3 linked regions of the Homo sapiens genome follow. The protein of the gene in region 2 interacts with the protein of the main gene of each other region in a biochemical or structural test. Each region holds a gene or a part of one and is shown on either strand. Other genes may lie near its edges. The genes, in order: S100A7, SLC8A1 and S100A5.

Evidence for each region.
Region 1: the proteins of SLC8A1 (region 2) and S100A7 interact in a biophysical measurement, tested with the Homo sapiens proteins (one large-scale study listed by IntAct).
Region 3: the proteins of SLC8A1 (region 2) and S100A5 interact in a biophysical measurement, tested with the Homo sapiens proteins (one large-scale study listed by IntAct).

The regions. Positions count from the first base shown.
Region 1 is NC_000001.11:153,457,739-153,462,095, forward strand, and holds S100A7 (protein S100-A7), read right to left. Parts: upstream 2,914-4,357; 5' UTR 2,870-2,913; intron 1,293-2,869; 5' UTR 1,276-1,292; coding exon 1,135-1,275; intron 233-1,134; coding exon 68-232; 3' UTR 6-67; downstream 1-5.
Region 2 is NC_000002.12:40,442,006-40,445,621, forward strand, and holds part of SLC8A1 (sodium/calcium exchanger 1 isoform A precursor), read right to left. Parts: intron 1-3,616. UniProt on the Homo sapiens protein: Mediates the exchange of one Ca(2+) ion against three to four Na(+) ions across the cell membrane, and thereby contributes to the regulation of cytoplasmic Ca(2+) levels and Ca(2+)-dependent cellular processes.
Region 3 is NC_000001.11:153,538,029-153,542,437, reverse strand, and holds the start of S100A5 (protein S100-A5), read left to right. Parts: upstream 1-1,503; 5' UTR 1,504-1,817; exon of another isoform or gene 1,818-2,232; coding exon of another isoform or gene 2,233-2,246; coding exon 2,247-2,384; intron 2,385-4,409. UniProt on the Homo sapiens protein: Binds calcium, zinc and copper. One subunit can simultaneously bind 2 calcium ions or 2 copper ions plus 1 zinc ion. Calcium and copper ions compete for the same binding sites.

The sequences.
Region 1 (4,357 bases), on a different chromosome or scaffold from region 2:
AAGTGTCTGGTGGGAGAAGACATTTTATTGTTCCTGGGGTCTCTGGAGGCCCATTGGTGGGGCTGGGTCACTGGCTGCCCCCGGAACAGGGCGCTGCTCCATGGCTCTGCTTGTGGTAGTCTGTGGCTATGTCTCCCAGCAAGGACAGAAACTCAGAAAAATCAATCTTCTTATCCTCATTCTTGTCCTTTTTCTCAAAGACATCGGCGAGGTAATTTGTGCCCTTTTTGTCCTGTGAAGAGAAAAACATACAAAATAGAAAAATTCAATCACAAACAAGTTTTGGGCTGGGAGGGAGAGGAGGAGGCAGAGATACAGACAAGTACCTAGATCTGCACAGGCATGGTGGCGGGGCTGAGAGCACAGGGTGAGTGGGTGAAGTTGGGGTGAGGACGTGAGTGTTATCCCTGGAGTTCTCTAGGGAGTCTTTTTGTCTCACACCTCAGGATGGGAGGCAGGTCCTGTCCCAAGGTGCTCTGTTAAGTGACCTTGGGGAGAGCAGTCCCCTGCCCCAGCCTCACTCTTTCCCGTCCCAGCCTCTAAGGGCACTGCCTACCTTAGTTCTACCCCAGGGCCTCAAAATTGGCCCTCATGCTTTTGTTCTCTTCTTTCTCTGGCCTCCTCTCCTTTCTTCTCCTTTTCCACCAAACTCATCTTCTGGGTATCCTACTCTTGGTCATCTAGACCCTTTGGTACCTAGTAGCCCACAGTTTTTTTTCAGATTTGCTAATGAGTCTTGTTTATTGCAAAGAGGGCTATTGATTTCTACTAACAATGGAACTTCTAGTGCTTTCCCAGTAATCTCAGGGATGTTGATGTGGGGCCTTTGGGAAACAGGACCTGAGCATGTGAGTTTCAGTCTCACAGAGAGAGGGTCAGTGAGTGCTGGGAGGGGACTGTGCACTGCCCTCAAGCTGCACACTTTGCTGACCATCTAATAACCTCCTTTATATCTGTATAACTCTTTCCCATTTTCATACTTTTTTGCCTACCATCCTTAGATTCACATATGATCCAAGTAATAAAGCCCTATTTGCAAATGGGAAATTTTTTAATCAGAGGGTGAGGGTGATCTGTCCAAGGCCACATAGCAAAATGTATCCTCCAACATTGAGAAGCTAGACACCGACTCACACAGGCACTAAGGAAGTTGGGGAAGTTCTCCTTCATCATCGTCAGCAGGCTTGGCTTCTCAATCTTGTCATCACGTCTGGTGTATTTGTGAAACATGTCGATCATGCCTATTATGGACCTCTCAGCTTGAGTGTTGCTCATCTTTGCTTTCAAAAAGCCTTCAGGAAATAAAGACAATCATTTTTTTCCCTTCATTTAAGTTAGGGTCTCTATTTGGGAGTGCTGGAAGGAGGGCTGAGGACAGAGTAAAAACACGGATAAGGTGTAGCAGAACGAACTCAATTTTTTTTTAATGTGATGGGATAAGTTGCTCAAAAATGAGAGGGTAGGACCAAGTCTGAGACCTGGCCCATCCTGGCCAGGGCCAAGAGGAGATGCAGGTGGATGGCGGAAGTCCAGCTGTGGACAGTGCTTCAGAGAGGGAGAAGCAGGGAGAGTCGGGCGCCAGCAACACATGGAAGAACTAAGCTGGGACACCCCAGCCTCAGCCAGCACATGGCAGACCCCACTCTTAAAAGAGCACCAAATCCATCTCCTCCAGCTTCACAGTCGGGGTGACAGTCATGGGGGCAGGACAATGGCCTTGGTGATCTGGTGTCTGACCCTCCTCGGCTGCTTCAGGAACCAGACACCGTGGGCCCCACCTTGACTCAAGTGCAAGCCCTGCATGACACGGTGTGTGCAGGCTCCAGGTGCACATGTGAGCGTGGACGTGAGTGTTAGCAGGAAACACAGTCCTGTCCCGAGCACAGGGGGCCCTTCTTGTATTCCCTTGGGAACGAGAAACAGGAATGGCCTCTGTTACAAGGAACAGAAATAACTCTCTGGTTCTTAAGCTGCTGGACGGGGTGGGAGTGAGGTGGGAGTCACTTCATGTCTGCTCTTGGGAATTATCTGCACCCTCTGAATCACCAAGCCTTGACTGTTTAAATAAAAATGTCTGACTTCCCAAAGCAGATCTTTCAGCCAGTAGTCAGTCTGGGCTGGCCTGCACCCCAAGCCTGAAAAATAGGACAGTGCAGTTCTCACTTCCCACACTTTCCAAAGAACCAGGAAAGGACCTTGGCTAATGCATATGGGTGTCTGACAATAAACCCCCAACACCTCTCAATGCAGGAGAAAGCTCCATGCCGGCAACTGACTAAGAGGAGCCACCCAGAGCTTTTTTGAATCTGAGGCCAAGGCCAGAGGGCAAGCCCTGTGCCCAGAGGGTGACTGACAATTTGCAGGTTGTGGTAGGGAGTGACGGAGCGTTGGTTTCTCAATACCTTACCCAGGTAGGGGCAAGCCATCTGGCCAGGGCTATGCTGTGTCGGGGTCCCAGGCCTGGGGGTTTGGAGAGCCTCCAAAGCATTCACAGGGGACCCCTAGCCCTCCACCCTCTGTGGAGCTGGAGCTGGGGAGGGGATTTAGCAACCGGGACCCCAACAGGAGGATGAATCCAGGGAGGAAGAGGACAGGGAGGGTCCTGTGCTCAGGTCCCACTGGGGACATTTCCACAGGAGTTGCCTCAGGAGATCCCAAAGGAGCAATGGACAGGTCTGGTTCAGCCACCTGGTTATACAGACGTGGGCTTTTGGGGTCAAGTGAAGGTCACACAGCCCAGCTAATGGCAGAGCTGGCCTAGACCCAGGCTTCTGAGTCTTTGTCCACAGCCCTTTCCCTTCCTACAGGCAGCATGGCAGGCCAGGCACTGGGCACTTCTAGAAAACGCAAAGAGGCAGGTGAGACTTACCAGAGCTGGGAAGCGTCACGAGTAGAAGGATGAGTGAGATGTGTGTGTTTGGACAAAGAGCAGTCCTTTATAAGGCTCAGCCTGGCTCTTCCCAGGGGCTGGGAGGCCTGGGGCCACCTCTGTCATCTGTTTCTTGGAGGCTTGCCCCACATCAGGTGGGTGGGACACACCCAGGAGGCTGTGCTCAGGATTTCTGGCCAGTGTCCCAGGTCACCAGGTCCCACCCCACCCCAGAGACCTCACCTGGAGTCTTCTCTGGCTCAACCTTGATTTGAGGGTAAGGCAGCGGTACATGTGTAGTAGCAGGTCAGAAAATGGGAGAAAAGAGCACTGGGCCTCTGGACCCAAAGAGGATGGAGTTTCAGACTCCTGAAGGCAGCATGGTCTTGTTTGTTCCCTCCCCTTATCCTTCCACACATTTGTTATGACAGCCTGTTCTATGACCCCCACCGCTGACTGAGCATTTTAATGTCTAGATATCAAGATACCTGCTGCTCCTGCATCCTCCTCAACCCTCATAGTCCTAAGAGGTGCTTCAATCTCTATTTTAGGAAAGGAGAAGTTGAGATGTTCCCAAGTTTACTCAGCTAGTAAACACAACAAATCATTATATGGACTCAGAAAAGCCTGAATCAAATCCTTACTCTTATCCCCTGTGCTATAGGTCTTGGGTCACATCAGGGTCTGCCCTATGGGAACTCAAAGTCCAGGGAGGGAAGCAGGGTTACTTCATTGCTAACCATTGGTCAGCCCCTCACAGAAGCCCTGGAATTAGGTGGGGGGACTGGGGTCAGGGGCCTCACTATCTAGGTTGAGTGGTGGAGTGACCCCCCCATGGAATGAGCCTGGAGGCAGGGAGTGGGAAAAGTTCTTTCCTGCCCCATGGCACTAACTTCCCAGAAAGTCTTCAGTGTTTTTCCTCCTCCTATGCAAAACAGCCTGTGTAGGAGTTGGGAGTTGTGCCCTTGGCTATAATGTGCCCTAACCTGCTGTGGAAAGGCTGACCCAGGTAGGGGCAAGAGGGTTGGGAAGGCATGGGAATCCCTGGGGCATGGTGAGGAAAGGGAGATGATGAATCACTGAAATGGACTTTTTCTGCTACCCCCTTGCAATGTTCCTTTTAGGGTGCAAGAGAGTTCCAGGTTCATTTAGTGCCAGCCCTTTAAGCACTCTGGGGCTCCACAGAGCTGATGTGATGTCTCCCTAGGTGGGACCTATTTTCTCCACCCATCATCTTTCTTCAACTTCCTTCTCGTCAGTACCTATGTAACCAGGGGGACCTGTTTCTCCCTCTCCCAGTTCCCCATGTGATGGCAATATTACTTTTAACAGCAAAAGATACATACACACACACACAGTGGAATGCTACTCAGCTATAAAAAAAGAATGAAATCACGCTTTTTGCGGCAACATGGATGGAACTGGAGGCTATTATCTTAAGTGAAATTACTCAGAAAGTCAAATACTGTGCAACCTCATGTGTAAGTG
Region 2 (3,616 bases):
TGGTTCCAAGTCTTTGCTATTGTGAATAGTGCCGCAATAGTGGTGGGGTGGGGGGAGGGGGGAGGGATAGCATTAGGAGATATACCTAATGCTAAATGACGAGTTAATGCGTGCAGCACACCAGCATGGCACATGTATACATATGTAACTAACCTGCACATTGTGCACATGTACCCTAAAACTTAAAGTATAATAATAATAAAATAAAATTAAAAAAACAAACAAATGTATAAATCTTTTTACTAAAAGTGATAATTCAAAAAAAAAAGAAAAAAGAAAAAGAAACTAGCATCAGAGTGAACAAGCAACCTACAGAATGGGAGAAAAACTTTGCAATCTACCCAATCTGACAAAGGTCTAATATCTGGAATCTACAAGGAACTTAAATTTACAAAAAAAAAAAAAAAGAAAAAACATCAAAAAGTGGACAAAGGATATGATATGAACAGACGCTTATCAAAAGAAGTCATTTATGCAGCCAACAAACATATCAAGAAAAGCTCATCATCACTGATCATTAGAGAAATGCAAATCAAAACCACAATGAGATACCATCTCACACCAGTCAAAATGGCAATTATTAAAAAGTCAGGAAACAATAGATGCTGGTGAGGCTGTGGACAAACAGAAATGCTTTTATACTGTTGATGGGATTATAAATTAGTTCAACCATTGGGGAATACAGTGTGGCAATTCCTCAAGGATCCAGAACCAGAAATACCATTTGACCTAGCAATCCCATTACTGAGTAAATACCCAAAGGAACAGAAATCATTCTACTATAAAGACACATGTACACATACGTGTATTGCAGCAATATTTACAATAGCAAAGACTTGGAACCAACCCAAATGCCCATCAACGAGAGGCTGGATAAAGAAAATTTGGTACATAGACACCATGGAATACTATGCAGCCATAACAAGGAGTGAGATCATGTCCTCTGCAGGGACATGGACGAAGCTGGAAGCCATCATCCTCAGCAAACTAACATAGGAACAGAAAACCAAACACCACACGTTCTCACTCATAAGTAGGAGTTGAACAATGAGAACACATGGACACAGGGAGGGGAACAACACACACTGGGGCTTTCTGAGGGGTTGGGGGCAAGGGGAGGGAGAACATTAGGACAAATACCTAACGCATGCAGAGCTTAAAACCTAGATGACAGGTTGATAGGTGCAGCATACCACCATGGCACATCTATACCTATGTAACAAACCTGAACACTCTGCACATATATCCCAGAACTTAAAGTAAAAAAAGAAATCCATAATTATTAACTCGAATAAATGGCTATGGAAGTAAAAATGTGACTATAAAACTAAGTAACAGAGGACTTCACCTACCAGAGTATTAGAAAAAGTTCAGCTGAAAAATAACATCTAAGCTGAGATTTAAAAGACATTCTGCAGGAAACCAGCCAAAAGGTTGTTGAATTGTAAGGTCTTAGGTGGACACTTTTGTAATTACCCTTCTCTGTAACAGGATTATTCACAGACGTACCTTCTTAGATATGCTGGGGTATGAGATCATGTTTGGAAGGGACAAAAAGTAGCTTCTATAATTTATACAAGACTTTTTCTCTCTGAGGTCAGAGCCATGCAACTGCATTTAATTGCATTCTACCACACTTATAGGGTCAATGTGGTAGATGGAAGGTTCACTGGTCTAGGGACTAAAAGAAATGAGTGCTGGTCTCAGCTCTACTGACCAGTCATATGTCCTTGGAGAAGTCATTTTCCCTCTCTTAGTATCATCTGTAAAACTGGGAAATTCTGCTAACAATCTGCAGCTGTGATATTCGAATCCTACACTTTGGCATTCAGTGCCATCTATAATATAACACCTGTCCATCTGTGCAGGTTTACTGTTAGTCAATATATCAGCTAGTAGTCAGCTGAGCTACTAAATGAAAATTACCCAAATATGTACCACATCATCTTTTCTAATGCTTTGATGGTTATCTTCCATGACCCATCTCAAATGTCAAATTTCCCTTATAAAACTACTTTGATTGCTAGGAAGGCCCTTAAACGTCATCTAGGCCAGGTACAGTAGCTCATGACTATAATCCCAGCACTTTGGGAGGCTGAGGAAGAACTGCTTGAGCCCAGGAGTTCAAGACCAGTCTGGGCAACATAGCAAGACCCCTGTCTCTACAAAAATAAAATTAAAAAATTAGCCAGGCACAGTGACATATGTCTGTGGTCCCAGCTACTCAGGAGGCTGAGCCAGGAGGATTACTTGGGCCTAGGAGGTAGAGACAGCAGTGAGCCATGATCATGCCACTGCACCCCAGCCTGGGTGACAGAGTGAGACCCTGTTTAAAGAAAAGTAAAATTAAAAAGTCATCTGTCTCCCTAGCCCCCACCTTTCCCAGTAAGAAAACTTGGGGCCTGATAACTGAAAGAGACATTTCAAACCCAAATATCTCAGAAGTGATGGAGCTGGGCTCTAAAACAAATTCTGTGAATTTCTAGGCCATTTCTCTTCACACTACACCAACACCAATTGCTAGGATTCCCCAAGCCCATCAATGTTTCATTTGCGTCTCTCATAATCTATACTGTGTGTGTCAAGAGTTGGCAAACTATGGTTAATGGGACATAGTCAACCTCCTACCTGTTCTCGTAAGGCGCACAAAATTAAAATGTTTCTTACCTTTTAAAATTACTGGAAAAAAAAGAATATTGCATGATGTGAAAATTATGTGATATTCAAATTTCAGTGTCCACAAGTAACATTTTATGGAACACAGCCGTGCCCATTCATTTATATATCATCTATGATTGCTTTCTTGCTATAACACCAGAGTTGATAAATTATGACAGATCCTATAGTTCACAAAGCCAGAAATACTGACTATCTGGGCATTTAAAAAATCAGCTCTCTGATCTTCGGTATATGCCATTTTGCGTGTACTTATCTTCCTTTACCTTCCTGTGGCAACCCCTTCACCACACCAATCAGTGTATTCACCTGGGGGCACACAGGCAGGAACAAGGCTCTCTCTCACCATTTATATCTTCAGTAATGAGCTAACAGTTGCTGAGCACCCATGTGTCAGAAACTGTTCCAAATATTTTACTAATATTAATTTATTACTCCTCACACAAAACCACAAGCCTTTTTAATATTTTTATTCCCATTTAATAGATGAAGAAAGTAAACACGGAAAAGGCTAAGTAATTAGCACAATGTCAAATATGCCATCTTTTGAATTCAAACGAATGTTATAACTATCATGAATATGTCTGCTGACCTCAGAGACCTTTAGTCTGAGGACCCTAGGTTGGTTCATTTTGTTAGTCAGTATTCTCAAACTAGATGAAAAGTCGTAGTTCCCTTTCCACCCTGAAGAATCCTTATTAGACATTCAGGAATTCCTGAGGCCCAGAAAACACAGGCAAATTTCTGGAGGCTTTCTACACAGGGAAAGAAAAAGAAAAAGAAAAAGAGGTAACTTGGATGAAATGATTTCAGAGTCATAGAACTGGATTCTACTATCTCCTATTTCAGTCTTATAAAATCATTTAATTTTACATGGCCTCCATTTGCTTATTTGTAAAATATAAACACAAAGCAAAACTAGGTGATATCAGATGTCTCT
Region 3 (4,409 bases), on a different chromosome or scaffold from region 2:
CACCCTCCCTGGGAGCGCCCTCCCTGGGGCCTCCACCCAGGTCACGCTCTCCTTCAGAGATGCCTACTGCATAGCAACCAATCCCTGCTGCCTCTCCAATCTTGCCAGCTGGGGGTGGGGTGGAGTGGGGAGCAGTGGGGAGGCCCCCCAGGCTGGGGTGGGACTGCAGCAGTGATAGGTACTACACCCTGAGCCCAGGTCTGTTCTTGGACTGGTGGTAGAAGTATGTTGTTCTACTGTGGTAGAACGATGTCTGAGTGTCTCCTGGGATACAGGAAACTCTCCCTGGCCCCTACTTCCTCCTTGACTGCAGCCTGAACCTGAACCCCCCTCCCCAATCCACAACCTCTACCCCAGTGCTGGGCCTTAGCCCTTCGCTGGACACCTTCCCTATTCCTGATTCTCAGTCCTCCATGCCAAGAGTCTCCGACGAGCCTTTCCTGTGAAGAGCAGTGAGGCCTAGAAGAAATCGTTCATTTAAAAGCCCTTTAAAAACCTCTGGGCCCATATTAGCTCATGACCTTGACCATATCCTTCGCAGAAAATATCTTCCTCCACTGATCCCCATCTCAAGGGCTGTCTTCTCTACTCCTGGAGTGGGTGGCAGGATGGGTGGGAGGGGCCCGATGTGGAGAGCTTCCTAGGACACGGGGAGATGGTGCCCTGTGTTTGTCCCACACTTCTGAGGTTTTCTTTCCAGGACAGCCTGGTTTCCCTTCTTCGGCTTATTGTTCCATCAGATTTCAGATTTTGAGTTCTGATTTTTGGTCAGAAGAGTAAAGTTTCTGGGATTGGGGACGTGTGTGCTATGGGAACTCAGTGTGTCCCCAGCCCTTGTTTGTAAACAAGGAAGGTGAGATTGGCAGAAGGGGTTTCTCCCCAGCTCCATCCCGGGAGGCTCTGACGTGGGCATCCTCAAGTCCCCAACAACTTCTCATGGGCCCTTTCTCTCCCCTGGATTCCTAGGGACAGAGATCAGGGAAATAAAGGCAGAAGGCAGTGAGAGGGAGGCTATGCCTGCTGCTTGGATTCTCTGGGCTCACTCCCACAGTGGTAAGTCCTTCCTTCCTATGTCTCTGTTCATCTGATATCTGGTGGGTCACGCTGGATGATGAGGGTGACAAGTGGTGGTGACCTCCACCAAGGAGGCCTGGCCCCACAAGCGGGCATGCGCTCAGGGAGAAGAGGGCAGAGCCTTTGGAATTTCTTGAGAAATGGCTCTGGGGTGGAGGTGGGGGTCTGGACTAGCCAGGATGCTCCTGCAGGTGCACAGAGTCCCTTGCCTTCAACTGTGGTCCCAGCTGAGTCTCCTTGAGGTGGGAGAGGCTGAGGTTTTTGTGGTGGGAGAGGAATGATGGGTCTGGTTCAAGAATGGCAGGGAGGGCTTTGGGCTGGAGGTGAAGACTCTCCACAGATTTAACCTGCAGCCTTCAAGTTCCGTGGGTGTTGCCTCCTTCCTCCCTGAGGGGGAAGTGGTTTTTGAGTCTGAGTCACTTGAGCTCCATCTGTCTCTTCCCTTGGCTGAGGGTGGCTGTGCTATTGGAATCCAGGCCCTTATTCAAGCGTAGCCTCTGGATCCAGGTTTTGGAATGATCCTGGAGATTTCAAGAGGCCCCCTGCCCTCCCTGCCCGCTGACCCGTCTCTGTGTGCACTGCTCTGGGCCAGAGTCTGGAGACCAGCTGGGCCAGCTCAGCTCACCTCCCTGCTGCTCCTTGTTGAGACCCCATCACCCAGTTCCAGCCCAGCCCCCTCTCAGCCCTGGACTCTCTCTTTGCCCTGTCCCCGACTTTAATAATGGGACACTCCTCGATATCAGGTGATTCAGGCACTGGGGGAAAGGCTGGTGAACTGCCTGTGGAAAACCAGTTCCTAAGCTGGAAGAAGCAGAGAGAAAATCGTGACCCTTGATCTGCTCCACCATCTGCCACCAGGGCCTTTTGAGGAGGTCGTCTTCTCATCTTTCTGCCTCAGGCCTACTTTTCAACAACTCCCCAGCAGGAGAGTCTGTGGTCTCCTTTGGGGTCTTGCTGTTCTCCTTGTACCAGCAGCTCCAGAGTTTGTTGTGGGTCTCATTGTAACCTGTACTGATATAGATGGGCGCTCTTGTTAGTGGATTTCAGTCTCATCCTGGGTTCCAGTCTCTTGTTCTTTGAGGGAGGGGCCTCAGAGGTAGGCTAGTGCTGCTGGTGGTGACTTCCTGAGGAATGGGATCTTCCCCTCTCCCTCTACAGAGCTGCACACTGTGATGGAGACTCCTCTGGAGAAGGCCCTGACCACTATGGTGACCACGTTTCACAAATATTCGGGGAGAGAGGGTAGCAAACTGACCCTGAGTAGGAAGGAACTCAAGGAGCTGATCAAGAAAGAGCTGTGTCTTGGGGAGGTAGGTGATTGTTCCCTCATCCTCCACCCCAAAGTCTGAGTACTCCCTCTGGGGGACACATACCTACCCTCAGGATCCTCCAGCCTAAGCCAGGGGCAGGGTGGCCAAGGGCTACAGACAGAGACAAAGGAAGATGGTGGGGATTTCGGGCCAGCAAAACTCTAGCCCTCTGTGAAGGAGAATGGGTCAGGGTCTCACTGAGAAGGAGGAAGGGCTGAGTCTGGAGGGTTTAGAGAAGGAGATTGAGGAGCCTTCGATGGTGGGGCCAGGCTCTCCCAGCAGTGGCAGAACCTGTGCTAGGGGTCATGGGTGGTGAAGGGATGCAGGGTGTCCAGGTCCAGCTGTGTACAACTCAAGTGTAGGGACTCTGCCTGATTCTTCTCTGTGTGCACAGCATGGCCAGGGCTCTCTGATGGTGCTGGCACTCAAACTGAAAGGTTAACTTGTAAACATAGGGTAGTGAGGAGACAGAACTGGTTCTCACCAGATGGAGGTGGTGGGAGGGAGGTGACTGACAGAGGGGAAGGCCCATGAGGTTATTATAATACAATATCCCCGAGGATAAATAAATAAATAAATATATATATATATATATATATATATTTTTTTTTTTTTTTTTTTTTTTTTTTGAGAGAGTCTCGCTCTGTCACCCAGGCTGGAATGCAGTGACATGATCTTGGCTCACTGCAACCTCCGCCTCTCAGGTTCAAGCGATTCTCCTGCCTCAGCCTCTTCAGTAGCTGGGATTACAGGCACGCACCATCACGCCCAGCTAATTTTTGTATTTTTAGTAGAGATGGGGGTTTCACCATGTTGGTCAGGCTGGTCTCGAACACCTGACCTCGTGATCCATCTGCCTCGGACTCCCAAAGTGTTGGGATTACAGGCGTGAGCCACTGCGCCTGGCCAAGGATAAATATTTTTGAGACAGAGTCTCACTCTGTCACCCAGGTTAGAGTGCAGTGGTGCGATCATGGCTCACTGTAGCCTTGAACTTTCAGGCTCAAGTGATCCTCTTACCTCAGCCTCCTGAGAAGCTAGGACTACAAGCAAATACCACCACGCTTAGATAATTTTTAAAATTTTTTGTAGAGATGGGGTCTCACTATTTTACCCAGGCTGTTCTTGAACTCCTGGCCTCAAATGATCCTATCGCCTCAGCCTCCCAAAGTGCTGAAATTACAGGCATGAGCCACTGTGCCTAGTCTTATTATTTTTATAGTTAAAAAAAATCAATGCTCAAATACATCAAATAACTTGCCTAAGGACAATCCGCTAGTGGGAGGCTGAGCTGGAGTTCTGGGCCAGGCCTGTGAATCATCCTCCCTGTTTCCTTTAAAATTTAGCCTGGGTGCCTCTCCATCTATCACACCTTGAGCCCTGGTAGGCCCTCCCAGAAAGAAGGTCCACAGTGTGCCACATGGGCAGGGGACAGAAGCAGGTATGGGCGTCCCCAGGCCTGATCTCTGGCCTTCTGCCAGGCTGCCTGCATCCTGGAGGTTAATGAGGGCAGAGGGAGGGGCCACAGGTCCAGCAGGGATTAATTACAGAAGGAGAGACGCCCAGAGGAGGGCCTGGCAATAACAGGAGCCCAGGCTGGGGACTAGGATCACGTGACAGACAAGCAGTTTCCGCCTTTGTAAGTCCCAATGTCTCCTGTGAAAACCTGTAGCTGACGGCAATGATGAGGAGACATCAGGATCTGCTTGTCTATATTTTCTTCCTGTTCCACCCAAAGGACCCTGACTCCATCGTCCTAATGGAGCCAGGCTGGGACATCAGGGGACTGAACAACAGTGCACAACCAGGCTCCAGGCAGGCCTCTTGCACAGCTCTCCTAGCAGGGGAGGGATGCAGTGGCTTCACAGCCCCAGTGCACTGCTCTCATTGAGAGACATTTTGTCCGGGGTTATTCTCACCTAGTCCTTAGAATGGGGAGAGAGTCACTCAGAGACTTGGATAATGCTCAATGCCACATAATCAGCAAGGTGTTCTTTTTTTTTTTTTGAGAAGGAGTTTCATTCT